4 separate regions of the Homo sapiens genome follow, and all the other regions are linked to region 3. Evidence: fine-mapped expression QTL. A gene starts in region 3. Each other region holds a variant in brackets. All regions are shown on one strand. Distances are between the middles of the regions. Region 1 has its middle 25 kb from the start of ZRANB1. Region 2 holds the start of MIR4296 (microRNA 4296). Region 3 holds the start of ZRANB1 (zinc finger RANBP2-type containing 1). Region 4 overlaps ZRANB1 (zinc finger RANBP2-type containing 1).

Region 1 (5,152 bases), 25 kb before region 3:
CTTTCTATTTTTTTATTTGTTTGTTTGTTTGTTTTTTTAGACAGAGTCTCACTCTGTTGCCTAGGCTGGAGTGCAATGACACGGTCTCGGCTCACTGCAACCTCTGCCTCCTGGGTTCAAATGATTCTCGTGCCTCAGCCTCCCACGTAGCTGGGGTTAAAGGCACGTGCCACCATGTCCGGCTAATTTTTGTATTTTTAGTAGAGACAAGGTTTCACCATGTCGGCCAGGCTGGTCTCAAACTCCCGACGACCTCAGGTGATCTGCCTGCCTCGGCCTCCCAAACTGTTGGGATAATAGGCGTGAGCCACCGTGCCCGACCTATAATTACAGGTCTTTCTTTCTTTCTTTTTTTTTTTTTTTTGAGACGGAGTTTTGCTCTTGTTGCTCAGGCTGGAGTGCAATGACACAATCTCAGCTCACTGCAACCTCCGCCTCCGGAGTTCAAGAGGTTCTCCTGCCTCAGTCTCCCAACTAGTTGGGACTACAGGCATGCACCACGACGACCGGCTAATTTTTTGTATTTAGTAGAGATGGGGTTTCACCATGTTGGTCAGGCTGGTCTCAAACTCCTGACTTCAGGTGATCCACCCACCTCGGCCTTCCAAACTGCTGGGATTACAAGGGTGAGCCACCGTGCCTGGCCATAATTACGGTTATTTCTGTCTTACTCTTTTCTCTATGCTGTAGTTTCCTCACTAAGATGTGTCTTACCTTTGTAGGCTTCTTATTCATTGGTACGTGATATTCACTATTTACTCAACTGAGGAAGGAGATAATAAACTTTATCCCAGTGATATCCCATTTCCTTCCCAAAATAAACTACAACTCAAGCGAAACAAAAACACCTAATTCTGTGATTCCTGTTAGTTTGTAACTGAGAGGCTCTGCAGTCTGAATTCAGGAAGGGGAAGCTGGAGGAATTCAGGAGCTCTTAAAGAAAATATTTTCAAAGTTGAAATGTTGGCCTAACTATTGTTCTTAACATGGTAACATGGTGTTTGATCTGATCTACAATTGTGTTCATTATACGTTAATTATATATATAGCTCATATATATAAATATATATGAGAATGTATGTTAAGTTTTGCAGGCAAAAGACTTGCAATTTAAACTCAATTTATTGAATAAGTAATGTTGCTCTGGGCAGACAAGGATTGTCGAAAATCTCTACACTATAGGAATGGCTATGAGAATAAAATATGCCAGCGAAATATGTTGTTGGAGAGGGGAATCTATAAGATACAGCATCATTGTTTGCTGGCCATAGTGAAGCTAAACACACATTCTTGACCACATTTATGCAAAGAGAAAGCCAGAACACCATGAATAGTTTTACTAAATGAAGTCCCATTCAAATTTTAAAAATCTGATTAAACTCTGAATAATGGTCCTCCTGTTGAACCTGAGGTATCCAACTGCTAAACGCCCTTTGGCAGTAGTGATAGGTTTTCTCTAATAGATAACTTTTAAATTTACAGCTTTTAAAGAGTTGCTGTCTTTTATGATCTTTCAAATTCTTTCTTCTCCTCACAAAATTTTAAGCATGAAAACTACAAGGTAAAGTCCCACTGGGAAAAAACAAAGCTCTCTAGCTAGAAAAATTTCCCATACTCATGGGGTTTTAACAAATGGCTGGCTTATTCTGGCTATTTGGTTACTTTTATAGTACAAAAAGAAAGAAATACACATATTCTGTTTAGAACTTGGTTCCAGGTGATTCTCCTAAGCAGTATTTTTTTCCATAGCTGTAATTTATCCTGGGCCTGAAGATAGGTAAGGCTTATTTACAGAAATAAGTCTTATTAGGAAAGGCTTATTTCTAATTTACAGATAAGGCAGCCATAAGAAGGTCGGATTTTCCCAAGACTAGAGCCAGGGAGTCCTGGAGGAGAGCAAGAGGCAAGCTCTCCATGACTTTTCATCGCGTGTCCATCTACGTACGCACACATGTACCATGCAGAAAGCAAAGAGAAATATACACATACATCCATATACATGGATAGCCCCAGCAAAGGCAGGGGTAAAAATCGGACACTGCAAAACATAAATTTAAAAAATCAAACCATCACAAAGCACCTAGAGCTTTATCTTCCCTGGTGTTTTACGAAGAGCTTCAAAGTCCCTTAGAAAAAGTAAAGCAGCATCTAGGTTATAGGTAGATCACTTAGGATACGTGAGACCTGGGGGTTAACTTAAAACTCTGGCGCATCTGTCGCAGAGAAGAGGCAAAGCGCGCGTCCAGACACCGCCGAGGACGCCCTCCAGGCCGCCGTCAGCCGGCGCCCCCGAGCGCCACGCACCCCGCGGCAGTCCAGCACCCTCAAGACCGCAGTCGGCCGCGGAAAGGAACGGGAACTGGGCCGACGCGCGCCGCCGACTCACAATCAGGGCCGCGCGCCGGCTGACGTCACCCTGTGTCGACCAGCCCCCTGAGCCCGGAAAGAGGCGGTCGCTCATTGGCTGCGCCGGCGGCGGCCTCGGGGCCAATGACAGGGCGGCGAGCGGCGGGGTCTGGCCTTGACGTTGTGCCGCTCGCCGCGGGGTTTATTTGGCTCCGGGTCCCTCGGCC[G/A]CCGCCATTAGGGTCCGCAGCGCCCGCGGCCGCCTCCCACACCTCAGTGCCCCCGCCCCCCGGGGCTCCCCAGTCTCCGCGCCTCCTCTCTGCTCCTCTCCCCCGGCCTCCGGCAGCCGGGAGCCGCGCGCGGACCCTCGGAGACCATGTCCTGACTGAGGGGAGAGGGCGGAGGCGGCAGCAGCGGGGCGGGCGGCGGCGCGAAGGGAGGCGGAGAGGGGCCGGGCTCGACTCGTAGCCGCGGGCTGCGCGGGGAGTCGCCGCTGCCGCCGCCGCCGCCGCCGCCGCCGCCGCCGCCAAGCGCCCGTCGGACGGGGAGGAGGAGCAGGAGCTGGAGGAGGAGCCGCCGCCGCCAGGTAACCGGGCCCCGGGGGGCGCCCCACCGCGGCCTGCCGGGCCCCTCGCTCCCAGGCGGCGCCCAGGTTGCCGGGCCTCACGGGCTGTCCGCCCGCCCGGCGCCCCAGGGGCGACCGCGTCGCAGGCGCGGGGAGGGCAGGGGCCCGGGCCGCCGCTGTCGGCGCTTCCATCTTGGGCGCTCCGGTTGCGGGGACGGCCCGGGGGCTGTGGGAGGGCGGGTCCGCCCAGCTTGTTTACCGACCGCCGGCCGCCCGTGGCTGGACGCGGTGCCGGTCCCACCGCCGCTCTTCCGCCAGATTTCCCCACAACTTCTTTTCCTGCCGGAGACGGATCGGCGAGTGGGGTTTCGCTCCCACTCCGCAATAGGCCGTAAACACTTGGGTCCATCGCCACAAGTTGGTTCTGGTGTCTCCAAACTTGTATTTCAGTCCCTCGGCCGCTTGCTTTCCACCTCCTGCGGTGGCCTCCAGTTGCCATTTGTAGGAAAATAAAGGTGGGGGACGACGAGGCGGGTGGGGAGGAGGAGCTGGAGCTAGTGGAAAGATTCGTCTACCCCTCCTGCTCGCAGTAACGAGTGTTCAGTGCAAGGATCTGTTTTTTCTCTGCTATGGTTTGGTGCGGGTCATTTCACAGACAAAAGAACTGTAGTGAATGCTGGCATTAAGCGCAAGGGACAGGCAGTTTAGGTTAAGCCTGGAAGTTTGAACCGGCCCATTATCTTTGAGATACACTGGTGTTTTGAAACTCTCTTGCTGAGGATATTGTATTTCAGTCAGTTGATTACCCTTTTCTGTAACTCCGTAGACTATCGATTTAAGCGCCGCCCCATCTTACCAGTATTTTGGTTTCACCGTGTTTATGATGATGTTAATAAATCTAATGTGCAAAAATACCGTTTTAGGAACACAATTGGAGATAATTTTTTTTTGTATTTGAGACGGAGTTTCCCCCTTGTTACCCAGGCTGGAGTGCAGTGGCGCTATCTCGGCTCACCGCAACCTCCGCCTCCCAGGTTCAAGCGATTCTCCTGCTTCTGCCTCCCGAGTAGTTGGGACTACAGGCATGCGCCACCACGCCCGGCTAATTTTGTATTTTTAGTAGAGATGGGGTTTCTCCATGTTGGTCAGGCTGGTCTCGCACCTCTGACCTCAGGTGATCTGCCCGCCTCGGCCTTCCAAAGTCCTGGATTATAGGCATGTGCCACCGCGCTTGGCCTGAGAGAAATCTTTAACTCTGGGACCTATTATATAATGAGTTATTTCTTTACCTGTGTGTTTTAGTTAACTTCTTTTATCACTTGTGCAGCATCCAGCAGTACCCCTGTTTTGGTCAAACATGGATGACTCAGTGTACAAACCATAAGCCAGGGGAAACCATAAGGAATTTTGATCTTGGCTTGTGCCAAGGCTCTTGGGAAAGTCATCTGAACTATGGGAGAAATAAAGCTGGATCTTGTCTCCTTGTTATTATTTTGAATTAAATGAGGGAATTCTAAAAAAATTTAGAATCCTATTGACTTTTGGCTCTAAAGATAGGCAGTCTCTTTATACTAAAATTTCATAACATTGTTTTTATTGGGCTGTTGGGGGTTTACGAGATAGTAGGACAGTAATGACATTTTGCTCTTTTGAGGAGGATGTTATCTGAGTGTCATGAGGGATTTTATTTCTGTTGCTGTTTCGATACCTTTTATTAATGCCTCAGAGCATTGGGACACCCATTTATTTACTCTTGAAATGTGCTTGGGTGTGATGAACTCATTCATGGTAATATATTTTAAGCTCATGGCCTTGATCCATGTCTGTACACTGATAGGGGTTATGGATGTCACATTTAAAGTCTGAGGATTAACATAGTTTTGGAACTCATGATCTAGTTGTACAATATATGAGGCAAATTGCTTCATATGTGTAATTGATACAGTGAGAGCTTGTCCATGTGCTTTATAATAAATGTAAACTTTAAATGTGAATTACAAAAGTAGTCCACTGGCCGGGCCCGTGGCTCATGCCTATAATCCCAGCACTTTGGGAGGTTGAGGCGGGCGGATCGCCTGAGGTCAGTAGTTCGAGACCAGCCTGGCCAACATGGTGAAACCCCGTCTCTACTAAAAATACAAGAAAATTTGCCGGGTATGGTGGCGTGTGCCTGTAATCCCAGCTACTCGGGAGGCTGAGGCAAGAGAATCTCTTGAACGCCGGAGGCGGAGGTTGCTGCGAGCC
Region 2 (5,152 bases), 92 kb after region 3:
TGTAATCCCAGCTACTCGGGAGGCTGAGGCAGGAGAATGGCGTGAACCCGGGAGGTGCAGGTTGCAGTGAGCCGAGACAGAACCATTGCATTCCAGCCTGGGCAACAGAGCAAGACTCCATTTCAAAAAAAAAAAAAAAAAAAAAAAAAGTCTTTCCTCTCATCAACCCCCTACCCCCTGCCCCCGAACGTCCTCAACCCAAAGTAGCCAAGTTGGCTAATCTAACGCAAAGGGTGGGAGGCCACACCAAATGCACTGGTTACATAGCAAACACAAAGTCTGGCTGGGTTTTAAAGCAGCCTTCGTCTAAATCACGCAAGCACACAGCAACAATTAGCAAAACTGCCCAGACATCGTTTCAGGTATCAAAGGGGCTGAGTGCACCGTGCACCCTTGCTTGCACACTGAGTGCTCTCACCAATTTCTGGGCCTGGAGCGCGGAGGCTTGGGCACCCACGCAACGCGCCAAAGGAAGTCAGGAGAGTGACGTCGAGTGTCTGAACCAACCCAGCCTTTTTCAGATTAGCTGCATCCTAAGAAGCCCCAGTCCTCATGTCTCTCAGTATTTAGCCATGGTAAGTGAAAACAAAGGCCTGCACATTGCTTCTGACTCAATTTCTTAACTATATTGTAAAGCTTCCTGGGAACTGCATTATGAAAATTAGACCACTCATTATGGGGTTTCAAAAGAAAAAAAAAAACAAGCCCATTCTCTTGCACTGCCCATTTTGAAAGTGTTGGTGGAGCCAAAGTGTGCAACGGGACCCCAGCTGGGATGCAGGACAGGCCTCACCTTGGACCATGTCAGGATTCCCATTTCTAGCAATGGAACACACTCAACCTCAAGAGGCTGTGCTCAGCTCTGGACAGCACCCGGCACAAGACGCTCCGCACAGTAGGTGCTCAATGAACACCACCCCTTCTGCTCTTTAGCAGCTTTTCCTGCAGATTCCCAAAGTCTCCACCTCACCTCCATGGTGACCCGCCCCATCACACTCCACTGTTTGAGGTCTCCTCGGCTGTCCTGCGATCAGAAGGTCCCAGGATGCCGTCCTTCCTCTGGTTTTGTGAGCAATGCTCCTAATCAGGGCTGGCTCAGCGAGCCCTCCCCCATGAACCTTTCTCAGTCCAATTCTGTCACTTTGTCCTTAGTCCAAAAAACCTGCCACTCCTCAAGATGAGAAAGGCACCCCAAAAATAGTCCAGGGCATGCATGTGCCTGTAGAGACAGGCCAAGGCATGGCCGCTTAGCCCCTGACCTGCGGAGCGGAGCGCACCCCTCCCTCCACAGCACGTGCTCCCTCCATTCATCACGTGCTTTTCATTTTGTTTGACACCCGGGCTGTAAATCAAACTGTCGACTATGACTCAATGGTGATGGACGGCTGGCCTCAAGGGAGTGTACGGTGTGATGGGGAAAAACGACAGAGACATGGACACAGTCCCCAGAAGCCCCTCCCCACAACCACTTCAGCCCTCTGAGCCTGAGCCCACATCAAAGCCCAAACAGCCCCATTTGCAAGCCTGGGCATGGTAGGCACTAAGCTAGGCAAAGCACCCACCGCCCAAATACAAATGGCTGCCTGACAGAGACCTGCTCCACCTGAGCCTGCACACGGACAGTTTCAGCACACGGGCCTTGATGGGACGGTCAGCCTTTCTTAGGATACGAAAGAACTGACTCTCAGCCTCACTCCCAAGTCTCGGATAAATCTGCGTCACCCATCCCAGGTTGCAAATGGGAAGGGAGGAACCCTCCTGGCACAGACATCTCTTCAACCGGAACACGGAAAACAAAACCCTCAGGTGATGAGAAACAGGCTGGAGGGACAGGGAGTGTGGGATCCCACTGTGCCCCAGCGCTGGACACCCAGAATGCTCTCCCCTCTCGGCATCTTCACAGCCCAGCTGGGGTGCTCAGCCAGGCTCCTGCTGGATGTGGAAGGGCTGAGAAAGGCACGTGAGGTCACTCTGTAGATGGAGATGAGACAGAGACAGAGGAACGCCCTCGAGCGCGCACGCCAAGGTGCCTGAGCTTTAGTAGCAAGCGAGCCAAGTGGTAGAAACCAATCAGAGAGGAGTCTCATTTCACAGCTTTAACACTGTACGTTCTGGAAAAGGAGAGAGGGCAAGAAGCCGGCAGCAAAATGTATCTTGGGGTTCTGGTTCACAGTCACCCCAAATACCTGTCAATTAGGTTGAGCTGTGTGAAGCGCGCAGAAGGTTCTCCGCATTCGTGCGGGCTGCTGTCTGCTGCTGTCTGGCTACCCTGGGGCCTCCTCCAAACACGGAGACTACGGATGCACTGTTCCCCCCGCGGCACTCCTTCCCCCTGCCCACCCCAAGCACTGCTCCCCTCAAGGCACTGACTTGGCCTGAAACTAGAGATGCTCTTTTCCCAAAG[G/T]TGCCGGGACCAAGAGGACAGGCACTGAGAGTAAAGCCCTGGGCAGCTGGGCCCAGGGGCTCCGGGCCACACTGTGGGAGGTTTCAACTCAATCATCGATGGAGACAGGGCACCACCAACCAGGCGGTGGGAAACAGCGCGATTCACTGTGGTAGGGGCAGGAGCTGAAAACCGCAGCTGCAGAACCAAACTAGAAGACGGTGATGAACCCCCAAACCCCAGCCACAGACTCCAGTTGCACTACACATCCCTGGCCCCCCAAATAAAAGCAAAGTGGCCTTAACATGTTGCTATTAGAAAAAAGTGGTGAGTATGAAGACATCCGCCCATCACCAAACTGACCGGTGCAAAGAGACGCTTATGTTTGTGCTTGAGAAATGAGTAACAACAGAGAAATAAAACACCGAACCTGATTCACAGCTGCAGAACGGGAGGGCAGTCTATGAACCCCATCCCCAGAGTCGGTGGAGGAACAGGTGGGGTGAGGGGTTCCCTGGGGAGGGGTCCCCCACTCTGAGTTTCTCTTAAAGCCGGGGACAGATAAGGCAAAACATGAAACTTTACCCCTTGCAAAGAACCGCACTTTTGTCTGTGAAGCTTTGCCTTGGCTGTTTCCTGAACCTTTACCTTTGCATAAGATTGTTTGGGTATGTTCATTTGTGCTTTGGGGTTTTAAGGCATGTCTAGTTGACTATTGTATATTTACATAGCTAATGTAATTACAGCTAATCACATAATTGCTGGAAATGTGCATAATTGCCTGATCCCAACATATAATTATAATGTATAGCAACATTATGAATCCCATTTTTAAAATCCACATTTTGGGGCTATTTAAAGTTATTTATTAGAACTGTTTGTGGACTACCTATAGGCAGGCTTCAACTCTGTTTCTTTACGAAGCGCTCAAAGTGCTTTAAAAAAACAAACAAAAACAAAACAAGTCCTGATTTTATAATGCATCTGTACAAAGATAGGTGAAAAGAAAACAGCTACTCAGAACAAAAACAAATAAATCTTAAATACCAAACAAAACCATTTGTCAACACTCTGTGGATTATGTTCTTTCCTCGGGGAAAGAGAAAGTCACTCTCTCATCCTGGAGGCTCTGATGGGTGTTTGCCAGGCAAGGAGGCTGCTGGAAGAAGGAAAGAGCCAGAGGGACTTCTAGACCACTTGGGTAACCTTGCTGACCCTGGAGGCGCCTGTCTTTGTTCCTTATACGTATGGATGACCTTTCTTGGGGGTACATCCCACTGACATGTGCTTCCACCATGGCAAGTTCAACCCACTGAGAAGAGCAGAAGAGCCCGCGACACAGAAGAGACCCACTGGGGAAACTCCCTTCCACCTCATCCCCGGCAGCATCTTCTCAGACTTCTCATCCTCCTGCGACAAAGGTGATGCAGAATGAGATTCCCAGACTTTCTAACTATCTATGTGTTTCACAGAAACCAGCTTGTCTCCTTTTTCCTCATATCCACCCAACCAGCTCAACGTTCTCATTCCTTTTATCCTCTGTGGTCGTGAGAACATTCCAGAGGTGCGGAATGTTTCATGAGCTTGTTTATTTAAGAGGAGGTCCCTTTTATTTTTGCAGAGGAAATGGAGAAGCACCCTCCCTGAGTCATGTTACAAGGGGACTACTCACAACTCAGCTGATACCATCCTCGGGGGACCATTTTCCACGTCTCTAACACATTCGAACAAAACGCAGTAAAACGAAACACATACTTTTTTCAAGTTGCAATCGCAACAGCCGCAGGAAAGGGGAGCAGTGTTTACAGACTGATTCTATCATAATCCACAAGAAGCAGCTCTAACAAAAAGTTACCACCAACAACAGCCATTGTGGTTTATTAAGTTCTACAAACCCAGGGCTCTGCAAGATGCTCTTCTGGGTTCCCTTTGCAATGCTGAGTGATTGTTAGCTAGCCCTCATTTCCAACCAATAGATGTTTGGGGCAAACCAAAGGAGCTCTGGCATAATGCGATAAAGTAGGTACTAAAACCCTCCAGCTGGTGCAGTTCACAATGTCAATTATGTCAGCAGACTAAACAGATAGGAAGATCTCCATTATACTTGAGAATGAGGAGACCACAATCTTGTTCTGATCAGCCTGTGTTACGAGAGGGCTCCTTCGTAATAATTCTTACATGGTATTATAGGATTGCTTGATAGCAGGCATCAGAAAAAAAAGGAACAATTATAAATAGCAAACTCAAAGAGTTACATTAAAAAAATTAAAATGTGGCTTTTACATTGGCTAGAAAGACCATTATTCCAGCTCATTTGGCTGGAGTCCCAAAGACTGTCTGTGTCCTGCTCTCCGAGTAGAGACACAGCCTGGCGGAGTGAATCCCCACGGCAGATTCTGGGCACACAGAAGGATCAAGCTCCATGCCACTTTTTCTTGCTTTGAAAAGTTTCAAAGAGGAAGGGGCTGGACAGGCCTTAGAAAACAGGGAAAGGTTGTACAAGTATCTGTGCAGGGGTGATGCTCAGATTCCAGCGGAGTACCTGGAGTGGGACCCTGGAGAGGCCTGCCTGATTCCAGCCTAGGGACCCACGACCAGGGCTTGATGTTGGCATTGTGTAGCAGGCGGGAGGGGACGAATTTTAAGGAGCTGGTGTATCCAGACACCAAGAGCAGGAAGACAAAGTTCCTACAAGCCTGGGAGCAGACCGGGTAAGCACAGCAGAACATGGCAGCTTCATGCTTTTAATCATTTAGAAAGAAAAAAAAA
Region 3 (5,152 bases):
AAAGTGAGACTGTCTCAACAACAACAAAAATCGTGTTTTTTTTTTTTTTTCCTTTTTTGTAGTGATGGAGTCTTGCTGTGTTGCCCAGGTTGGTCTTGAATCCTGGACTCAAGTGATCCTCCCACCTCATTCTCCCAAAGTGCTGGGATTAAAGACTTGAGCCACTGTGCTTATTATCTAATATAAGGCACATCTCAAAACTCTTGAGCTTGGTTTTGGTATTGCTTAGTTACCTGGATTTTCAGAGGTTGGTGGGCTAATTAGGCAGCTGTCTGTCCATTATTTTACCAGGCATTTATGACAGTGATTATTTTTTATGACAGTTTTTTGTTTGTTTTTTAAATCAGCCTGGACATTTAAATATATTGTGCCAGCATATTAGTTACATGAAGATTAGCTAAGATAACATAAGGTTACGGGCTGTTTAGTTGCACCTACAAACATAGTAAGACTTATCAAAACAAGTATGGATTTTGAATGTGAATATTTTAAAAGATATATTGAAATTACTTAGAGTAGCCCTGGATATATGTTCATTATGGCATTTATCTTGTTAATAAGTTTCTACATGCTCATTTTAATTTCCAGTAGCATGAGCAAGTAACTTATATTTCATTCCCGAGAAACTAAAAGAATCTGCCTAAAGAGTATGAAAATTGCCATTAAATCTGTATTGTCTACTTTCTGGATGGTTATATCATTATAGTTCTCTGCTCTTCCACACATTTTTGGGCTGCTATCAGTTTGTAAGTAATCATTATACAAACTAAATTTAAAAATTTAAACAAGATAATTTTATATTACTTGGATCAGGGAAAAAAATGCAGTTGCTGAAGGTGGTTTCATAGCTAAATATAAGCAATTATTTTGCTTTTTCTACTTTTTTGGATTTTATCATCTTTTCCCTTTTAGTAATAGAGTAATACAGGTAGGAATTAACTTAGCACTGCCAAATTAATAGTAATATTAGAACTGTGTACACAGCACAGGGTTAAGGTTATATAGAAAAATGTCTCATCCATGTTTAATTTGGCTGACCAGCCCAGTTGATTAGCCAATTTTATTGTTTTGTTAAATTAAAATTCTAAATATAGTTGTCCATTGTTAAAATAAGTGAGTAGGGTTAAAATAGAGAATTGATAAAAATAAAGCCTTAAAAATCTTTTAGCTAAAGTAGCAGGCTTCAAGTGAAATTCAGTTTTGGTCTCCTTTACAGGAATAGCTATTCAGTCAGACAGAACCACTTATCACGTTTTGCAGTATCTCCTGAGGAAGTCAGAATTCTGAGCCAGCATGAAGACGGAATCTTGTCTTTGATCTGATTTGCAAACCGTACTTTTATTCTAATCATGTGCAAGGTGGAGGTTATAGCGTGGGAACTAAAATCTTAGTAAGTGTGGTTTTTATTTTAGCTATTAAGTAGTATACTTTCTTATAGTGATTTTTTTTTCTTCTTAGCAGAGTTCACACTATAAATGGTGTATGGACTTGGCAGGCAGGAACATAATACAGTATACTTCAAAAGTGAAAGATTTAGGCCAGGCGTGGTGGTTCATGCCTGTAATCCTAGCACTTTGGGAGGTCGAGGTGGGTGGATCACGAGGTCAGGAGTTCATCAAGAGAAGCCCGGCCAAGATGCTGAAACCCTATCTCTACTAAAAATACAAAAATTAGCCGGGCATGGTGGCATGCACCTGTAATCTCGGCTACTTGGGAGGCTGAGGCAGGAGAATCGCTTGAACCTGGGAGGTGGAGGTTGCAGTGAGCTTAGATTGCACCACTCCACTGCATTCCAGCCTGGGCAAAACATAGCAAGACTCCATCTCAAAAAAACAAAAATGAAAACAACAACAACAAAAAAACAAACAAACAAAAGATTTAACCCTCTAGGTTCAGGAAAAATCCCTGAGAAAGAGAGAGCAAAGCTTCTATACTCTGCCTAGGATTTCTTTCTCTTTCCGGGTGAAAAATAGGTGTTGGGATGATACTGAGTTGATAAAAGTATTTAGGAAAAGTGGCCAGTGTCTAAATTCAAGCCATTAAAAAAAAAAAAATTAAATTTGTTATGTAAGTTGCTTCATTTATGAATTAGTTGCCATTAAATTATGAAGTCTTTCTTCATTATAGTGTAGTGTTAGCCCATTGTTGAATCCTAGAAATCTTTTAAGTAGTGTGAATATCTTTTAAATATGAATTGGATTTTTTGGGGGGCAGGGGATGGAGTCTCACTCTGTCACCCAGGCTAGAGTGCAGTGGTGCGATCTTAGCTCACTGCAACCTCTGCCTGCCGGGTTCAAGCAGTTCTCTGCCTCAGCCTCCTGAGTAGCTGGGATTACAGGCACCTACCACCATGCACGGCTAATTTTTGTATTTTTATAGAGACGGGGCTTTACCATCTTGGCCAGGCTGGTCTTGAACTCCTGACCTTGTGATCTACCCGCCTCAGCCTCCCAAAATGCTGGGATTATAGGCTTGAGCTACTGCCCCCGGCCATGAATTAGATTTTGAGTATATTTTAAATATTCAAAATTTAAAATATTTTAATTATGAACATTCACAATTATATTGGAATGATTATGCTACTGGTTATTTCAGTGACCTTCCACAGATTTAATTTTCCCCAGTACAGTCTTCTTTTTTTTACTCCAGATAGAACTAGATTTTGAGGCTACAGATTATCAAGGAACTACCTATTTCATAATGTTACTTTGTTAATTGTAGCCATTACTTCTCAACATGTTTCTTTACTACCTGTGCTAATTAAGAACAGTGGATAATTAGCATTTTAAGTTGCTTTTCTCCCTTAGCGAGAATGATAAAATAGACGTTGCTTGATCTTCTGAATTCATGAATCATAATCTGTGTTCATAATTTGAGAATGGTTATGTGTTTAAGCTATTTTTTAGTTTGTGTTGTTTCCTCTACCTTTGTCTCTTTAAACTATTGGTTACTTTTCTAAATTGATGTGATGGCCTCCCTGAAATTAAACATTTCTATTAGTGGCTTCCCGTTAATCTCATCCTTCTTAGATCAAACCTCGTTATATCTCCTGCCTATCTCTTTTGCATTCCAAAGTTCAGTTTTATTAAATCCCAGGGTCTAAGATTTTTTCTTTGAGAATTTATCTCCAGTGTTTCTATGGAAATTAAAAAAGAAAATTAGGATAATTCAATGTCGAAATGTTGCATGCATCTTTTGAGAAATTTATATTTTGTAGGTTGAAGGACTTGCTTTTTGGGCAGCGTATTTTTGGAGGTGGAATGTAGTTATTTTAATAACCATGTCCTAATTATTTATAGCTTCCTGCCTGACACAGCTCACTTCAAGAAGTGCACAATGTCAGAACGTGGAATTAAGTGGGCTTGTGAATATTGTACGTATGAAAACTGGCCATCTGCAATCAAGTGTACTATGTGTCGTGCCCAAAGACCTAGTGGAACAATTATTACAGAAGATCCATTTAAAAGTGGTTCAAGTGATGTTGGTAGAGATTGGGATCCTTCCAGCACCGAAGGAGGAAGTAGTCCTTTGATATGTCCAGACTCTAGTGCAAGACCAAGGGTGAAATCTTCGTATAGCATGGAAAATGCAAATAAGTGGTCATGCCACATGTGTACATATTTGAACTGGCCAAGAGCAATCAGATGTACCCAGTGCTTATCCCAACGTAGGACCAGGAGTCCTACAGAATCTCCTCAGTCCTCAGGATCTGGCTCAAGACCAGTTGCTTTTTCTGTTGATCCTTGTGAGGAATACAATGATAGAAATAAACTGAACACTAGGACACAGCACTGGACTTGCTCTGTTTGCACATATGAAAACTGGGCCAAGGCTAAAAGATGTGTTGTTTGTGATCATCCCAGACCTAATAACATTGAAGCAATAGAATTGGCAGAGACTGAAGAGGCTTCTTCAATAATAAATGAGCAAGACAGAGCTCGATGGAGGGGAAGTTGCAGTAGTGGTAATAGCCAAAGGAGATCACCTCCTGCTACGAAGCGGGACTCTGAAGTGAAAATGGATTTTCAGAGGATTGAATTGGCTGGTGCTGTGGGAAGCAAGGAGGAACTTGAAGTAGACTTTAAAAAACTAAAGCAAATTAAAAACAGGATGAAAAAGACTGATTGGCTCTTCCTCAATGCTTGTGTGGGTAAGTTTCTGTATTCTGCATTTTTTGCGTGGGATGGGAAAAGGTAGTAAAAATGATATGAAAAGAGCTGGGTGCGCTGACACACGTTTGTGGTCTTAGCCACTTGCTTGAAACCAGGAGTTTGAGGCTGTAGTATGCCATGATCGGTCTGTGAATAGCACTTGCACTCCAGCTTGGGTAACATAGTGAGACTGTGTCTCCACGCACATGCAAAAATGTGAGTGTGTGTGTGTGTGTGTATATATATATGCGCAAAGTCACTAGCATTTGATTCATTCAGCACGATAGCTGTACTTTCAAGTATGCATACATAAAAATTTGTGTATTTGTGATCTTGTCGTAACTTTGTACTAAATTGCCCACAATTAATTGTGTTCATGTCTCTCCATTACTGGGGGCAGTGGAAACGTTTAAGTTAAAGCAAAGTTTTTACACATCAGCAGTAAAATATATACCTGGACTTTAAAACTGCTACTCTGTTTATTGTAACAAGATGTAACTGAGGAACACCAGCTGCTGTTTCCAAGTATTTGTAAACAGTGTGAGCATCTTGTGATGATAGAAGCTTTAGTCAGATGTTAAAAATACCACAAAAATGTGTGACTCCAAGAAGTTGAACAAACATATTGACCTTGAAAATACTGGTGTTAATTTAACATGAATGTCATGTAGTAAATGTTTGCAAACTTTATGGAACTGATTACATGTAGCCAGCTGATTCCATACTTCAAGTTATGGTTCATATGTATTGTGACATTTTCCTCAGGAAATGCTGTTAAAGGACAGAGACATAGGAGAGCAGAGTTTTTCTTCAGTTCTTGACCTTGTGAGTTAATTGTGATGTAATTCACAAAAGCAGTGACTTGAGTCTTCAGTATTTTTTTTTTGAGTAGATTAGATGTTTGATTTTTATTAAATTATTTGGATGGGCTGCTTGCTTTGACATTTGGTCTTATGAGGGAAATTTTGAATGATTACTAAGTTTAAACTTTGTGTGGAACA
Region 4 (5,141 bases), 47 kb after region 3:
AGGGTTCTTATTCCAGATTCTGGGCAGTGGTCTGTGAGTAGTTTTTTTCCTGGATGAAAAGGGAGCAAGCCCACTTGTCACTAAATGAATTGTGTGAAATGTGCTCACTTGGACTCCATCAACAATGTGCTGCTCCCAGATTGCCATGCCAGAGGGTCTTCGGATTCTTCCTTCTATCACCTCTGCTCTAAGCAAATCTTGTTAGAAGGGCATGCCTTTGCTTAGGCAGATTGGGAATACCAATTCACTACAGAATAAAGATTTTAAAAATGCAATAAGGTGGCAAATGCATTGTATGAAGAATTTCTCAGTGTTTAGTCTGAGAATTTTTGCATGTTGGTTAATTGTGGCCATTCTTTAATTTAAAGTTAAAACTATAATCTTAGGTAGAAAAACTTTTTTATAAGAAGTATTATTTGACCACTTCAGGTATACATTCAATACTGGGTAAAAATTTCAGACCTATCTCAGGAACACAGAAATATTTGGTGTCCTGATAAGCACTTTCTAGACTATTGATGTGGCCAGGAATTTGGAAAGACGACACACGCACGCGCGCGCGCGCACACACACACACACACACACACACACACACAGTTTTTTCCTTCCCTGTGATGAAAAAGGCTGTGAAAACCTTAAAGTATTTGCTTGCTTCTTGTTTTGTTTAGTTGATAATGAAATGTGTACAACCTCAAATTTGCTGCCAGAATACTAAAAATAGAAAAATACCCACAAAACTGTCATGTCTTTAGTTCTTTCCCCCCGAAAACTCAGTAAAAAGGTGTTCCCAGGATGAAAAGATCATTTTTTGCTGCATGCTAAATCTTGCAGGAAAAATGATTTTTTAGTACGATTCTGTAGAAATGAATCTTTGATATAATGTAAATGCTGCTGTTTGTTTCAAGTGGTGAATGTGTTGTTAAAAATTGGCTGTTTGCTTTCATTTTGGCCAATAAGTAATCAAGTTTGTAGAAAATGTTAGCATTCTGACTACTTAGCATCTGTAGTAATTTCTCTATGTATAGGGATAATTTTTTAGTGGGCAGAGATCCTGTTCTAGTTGCCTGTTAAGCAAAATCTGCCCTCCCAATTGAAAAAGCCAAAGAGAATTGTTAGAGGGAAAAGCATGTAGCCATTGCAGTCTGCATTGCAGCCAGCGTTGTCCAGAGTACACGCTCAGCACTTAGCTTCTACTGTGTGTTGTGGTCTGGTGAGTGTTGTTTCCCCTGAGCGCTCTATTATTTATTTATTTATTATCAATCAGTGACCCTGACCACATAGTGTGATAGGTGCAGCATTCTTCCCTGTGGGAAAGAATTAAAGATGGTTCCATTTCCTAGGCTACAGACAGGAATGGGGCTCTAAATGGTTTTCATAGACTGGCTGTTAAAGGCCAAAAATTTTGGTAAATCAATGCTATATTATGCTCTTGAACTATTAAAACAGCCATAATTATTGTCCCAAGATAGAATATAGTCCTTTTTCAAAGATGATTATACGTGGCTAGGTGACAGACATTAATGACTGACTCTGGAGAGTAAGTCATACCTGCACTCTGTGGACTTGATGGTTCTTTTTCTAGAGCAAACAGAGCGTGGCATTTTGTTTTGACTTGTTCTTCCTTGGGGTCAAATTTATATATATATATATAAATTTTTGTTTGGGCGACCAAGATCTAATAATTAAAACCCAGGTGGACCATGGATTCAGACCTGCCTTTTTATGTTTTTGACTCTTAGGTTCATCGTGTCCCAGACTTCTTCACATATTCGTGAAGGTAAGATATTCTGTGTGCGCTTGGCCTCCTTTTCACGCATATTTCATTGCCTCTTTGATGAGTGGTTACGAAGACGTTAAACTACCTTTTTGTTCCCTGGGGTAATAGGTCAGTAACTATGAGCGCCGTCTCTCTCCATGTGAGCTTGTGTTAATAGACACTTTTATGGTAGAGTTGGGATGGGGCCACCACCTTAAAATGAGTGAGCAGACAAGGCCAGGCAAGCCAAAGGCTTTAAGACACCATGATTTTCTTGTTTTGTTTTAATTGGGAAGGGAAGTATAAGGAAGAGCTCAGAGGGAGTTTCATACCTGGAATTGTTGGACTTAATTGACACTTGCAAATACTTTTAGTATAAAGGTTTAATTCTATTTAAAAAGAAGATCCATTAAATCAAGCTCTTAACTCATGGGACTATTTGCAACACTTCTTTGTAAATATCATTTTGTTTGTTAGGTTATTGGCAAAACAGTTTCAAGGTTCACTTCCCTCCCTTGAACCAGGTCCAGGTCATTTTGCTTTGGGGTAGATTAAAGTCAGAACTCTAAAAGTTGAGCAACTTTGTTTTTTTTTGAATTGATTTAGCACTAACCCACCATTGCATCTTAAGGATGGCATGACGTGATAATGATGGACTTGTGTGAGGTTTTGATTTTTCAATTAAACTTTTTGTTATCACAGGTAATTAATTGTCAGCGGTCTTGAGTCTGGTTATGGAACCCTGTAGTAACAAGAGCTGGAAATTGGCTAATTGACAATGCAA[T/C]TGCCTTAAACATCTCAAGTAGAGAACATTTACATTAGTGAGATGTACTTGAATTTCAGAACTTAACAAATTTTAATTACTTTTTATTGAAAACTGCACTGAACGCTAAATGTCCACCTTTACAATAAACAAATACAGTAACGGTAACTCACACTAAAACAAAACATACTTCTGATAGCCATTATTTTTCTGTTTGGGACAATTTTAAAGTTTTTCTTTTGTCACAAAAACAGGAATGTACCTATACAAAGGCTCAAAATAGGCCATCTTTTTAAACAAAAAGGCAATGATTCACAAAAGACTATGAATAGAACATGTAACTAGTTGATACAAATCTAATAGGATTTGTTAAAATCAGTCACATCTAATACATCTGAAGTGTTCTTGTATAAAATATCACGTGAAGAAAAGAAGACTTTATCAATGTCTAAAAAAGTGGGTTTGTTCATAGACAATCTGACAAGTTACCATAAAAAGTGTTTCCTGAGACATAAGGAAATGCAACATTATTCTTCTTGAACCCTTTTAGCTCAAGACTTTCCACTCAATAAAATAGCAGAGGATCTGAAACTGAGAAAATATATTTGAGTACAAACAGCTTGTGAAACTTAATACTTTTTTTTTTTTTTTTGCATCATCAGAGGGTTTTACTGAACTTACAACCGACTTGCCCGCTCAGTATGCAGTTCAGATGTGAGAGGCGCTTCTCTGTACAGCAGCCTGTACTGTCTTCAATCCTATGCGTGCAGGTGTCTACCACAGGCAAACAGTTTTCTCCCCATTTTGTAGTAATGTGATTTTCCTATTAGCAAAAAGAGGTCACCAGCCCCTGTAGACTTAAGGGACTCAAGTCACAGGATGGGGATTTCCTCTTAATATTTTTTATTTTGTTGTTTGAACTCTTGATGCAACATTGTAGAGCAGGGTGTTCAGGACCTGCTGTGCCCAAGGGACTGATAAAGGAAAAAGCTCTATTTATTCTTTTTGTGATTTGATGCACAGATGAAAAACTTAACACACAATAACAGAAGTTGGTCGTTAATAAATCACATCCTAGTCTTTCAGCGCTTCCGTAAGCAGACGACATCTTCAGTTTTCTAGCTCTTGTAGTTTCAACACTGCAACATCAATGATGCATATGTCCAGAATCAGTTACAAAGACCATCCGATTCTTTTTCTCTTAGTTCATCTATTTTTCACTGTCTCTTGGTCCCAAGTGTATCTGAGTGATTACCTTCTGGCATTCTCTGCTATTGCTCGTTGGGGTGCTCTCGATTGTCCCCGTGTTTTGTGGGCTGGTTGGGAGAGGGCGCTTGGGAAGGATGTGCCACTGTCGGGAGGTTGTGAGTCACTGGGATGCCTCCAGGGATGATCCCTTCCATGGCTGCAGGAAGTCCTCCTGGAGCCACACCCACGATGCCTGGCGGATATCTAAGGAACACACAGAAATAGGGCCTTGTAAGTTCAGGGCAGAGTTGCCAAGCTCTTGGCTCTTCTACTTCTGGCCTTTTCATAAGAGACAGGAGCCCAGTGACATGAACATGGCTCACCTTGACCGACCTTCTGGGCTCAAGTGATCCCACCTCAGACACCCAAGTAGTGGCGACCACAGGCATGAGCCACCACGCCTAGCTAGTTTTTGTATTTTTTTGTAGAGATGCGGTTTTGCCAGACTGCCCAGGCTGGTCTCAAACTCTTGAGCTCAAGTGATGCCCCATCATAGGCCTCCCAGAGTCCTGGGAGTACAGGCGAGAGACACCAGGCCTGGCTAATAGTTTTTTTTTTTTTTTTTGAGATGGAGTCTCACTCTGTCGCCAGTCTGGAGTGCAGTGGCGTGAGCAATCTCAGCCCACTGCAACCTCTGCCTCCTGGGTTAAAGTGATTCTCCTGCCTCAGCCTCCCAAGTAGCTGGGACTACAGGTGTGCGCTACCACACCCGGCTAATTTTTATATTTTTAGTAGAGACGGGGTTTCACCACGTTGGCCAGGATGGTCTCAATCTCCCGACCTCGTGATCCGCCCGCCTCAGCCTCCCAAAGTGCTGGGATTACAGGCGTGAGCCACCATGCCCGGCCCTGGCTAACGATTTTTATGGGATAGTTTATCTTCCCTATCCCCAAAGCAAGGAGAAGTCTCAATTTTTATATAAAACACTGGCAACTAATTCATAAAAACAAAACTAGTCCAATCCAAACACGGGGCCACTAATTTTGTAGCTTTTAGATAAGAAGATATTAGCCCATACTATTTATGAATGTGGATACATTATACTATTTAAAAAAACCCACTTTGTACAAAATGGACTCCCAACTGTTCACCAGTTACTTCTGACTGATAAAATGATTTCCCAACAGAGTACAATGGACCCTTAGGGACTCAATGTTTGTCTCCCTCCATCCCCCTAATTCCAGTTCAAATCCCACACCTTAAAGGTGATGACCTTAAGAGGTAGAGCCCTTGGGAAGTGACTGGGTGAGGAAATGACTGGGTCATGAATGGGATCAGTGCCTTTACACAAGGGAGTCTAGTCAGTGCTCTGGCCCTCTCTCTGCCATATGAGGATGTGGGAAGAAGCTGACGGTCTGCTGCCTGGCCGTCACC

What was found. PIP is the estimated chance that this variant, and not a neighbour inherited with it, causes the effect.
Region 1: its variant is fine-mapped to the expression of ZRANB1 in whole blood (TOPMed, PIP above 0.99).
Region 2: its variant is fine-mapped to the expression of ZRANB1 in lung (TOPMed, PIP 0.96).
Region 4: its variant is fine-mapped to the expression of ZRANB1 in whole blood (TOPMed, PIP above 0.99).

What each region holds. Positions count from the first base shown.
Region 1 is chr10:124,914,344-124,919,495 of GRCh38, forward strand. It overlaps a transcript of ZRANB1 not described here. Among named protein-coding and RNA genes, the nearest start is that of ZRANB1, 25 kb to the right of the region's middle. RefSeq lists silencers at 2,520-2,879, 2,940-3,209. The variant G/A (reference allele first, on the strand shown) is at 2,574.
Region 2 is chr10:125,031,365-125,036,516 of GRCh38, forward strand. The region is part of intron 3 of CTBP2 (C-terminal binding protein 2); the gene reads right to left. It overlaps MIR4296 (microRNA 4296), which reads right to left and starts at 1,506; the gene lies at 1,419-1,506. The variant G/T (reference allele first, on the strand shown) is at 2,405.
Region 3 is chr10:124,939,158-124,944,309 of GRCh38, forward strand. ZRANB1 (zinc finger RANBP2-type containing 1) reads left to right here and starts at 2,966. Exons shown (of 9, transcript NM_017580.3): 1 at 2,966-4,150. The coding sequence starts at 3,337.
Region 4 is chr10:124,985,728-124,990,868 of GRCh38, forward strand. It overlaps ZRANB1 (zinc finger RANBP2-type containing 1), which reads left to right. Exons shown (of 9, transcript NM_017580.3): 9 at 1-2,462. CTBP2 (C-terminal binding protein 2) reads right to left here. Exons shown (of 11, transcript NM_001329.4): 11 at 1-3,971. The coding sequence ends at 3,791. Among named protein-coding and RNA genes, the nearest start is that of MIR4296, 45 kb to the right of the region's middle. The variant T/C (reference allele first, on the strand shown) is at 2,541.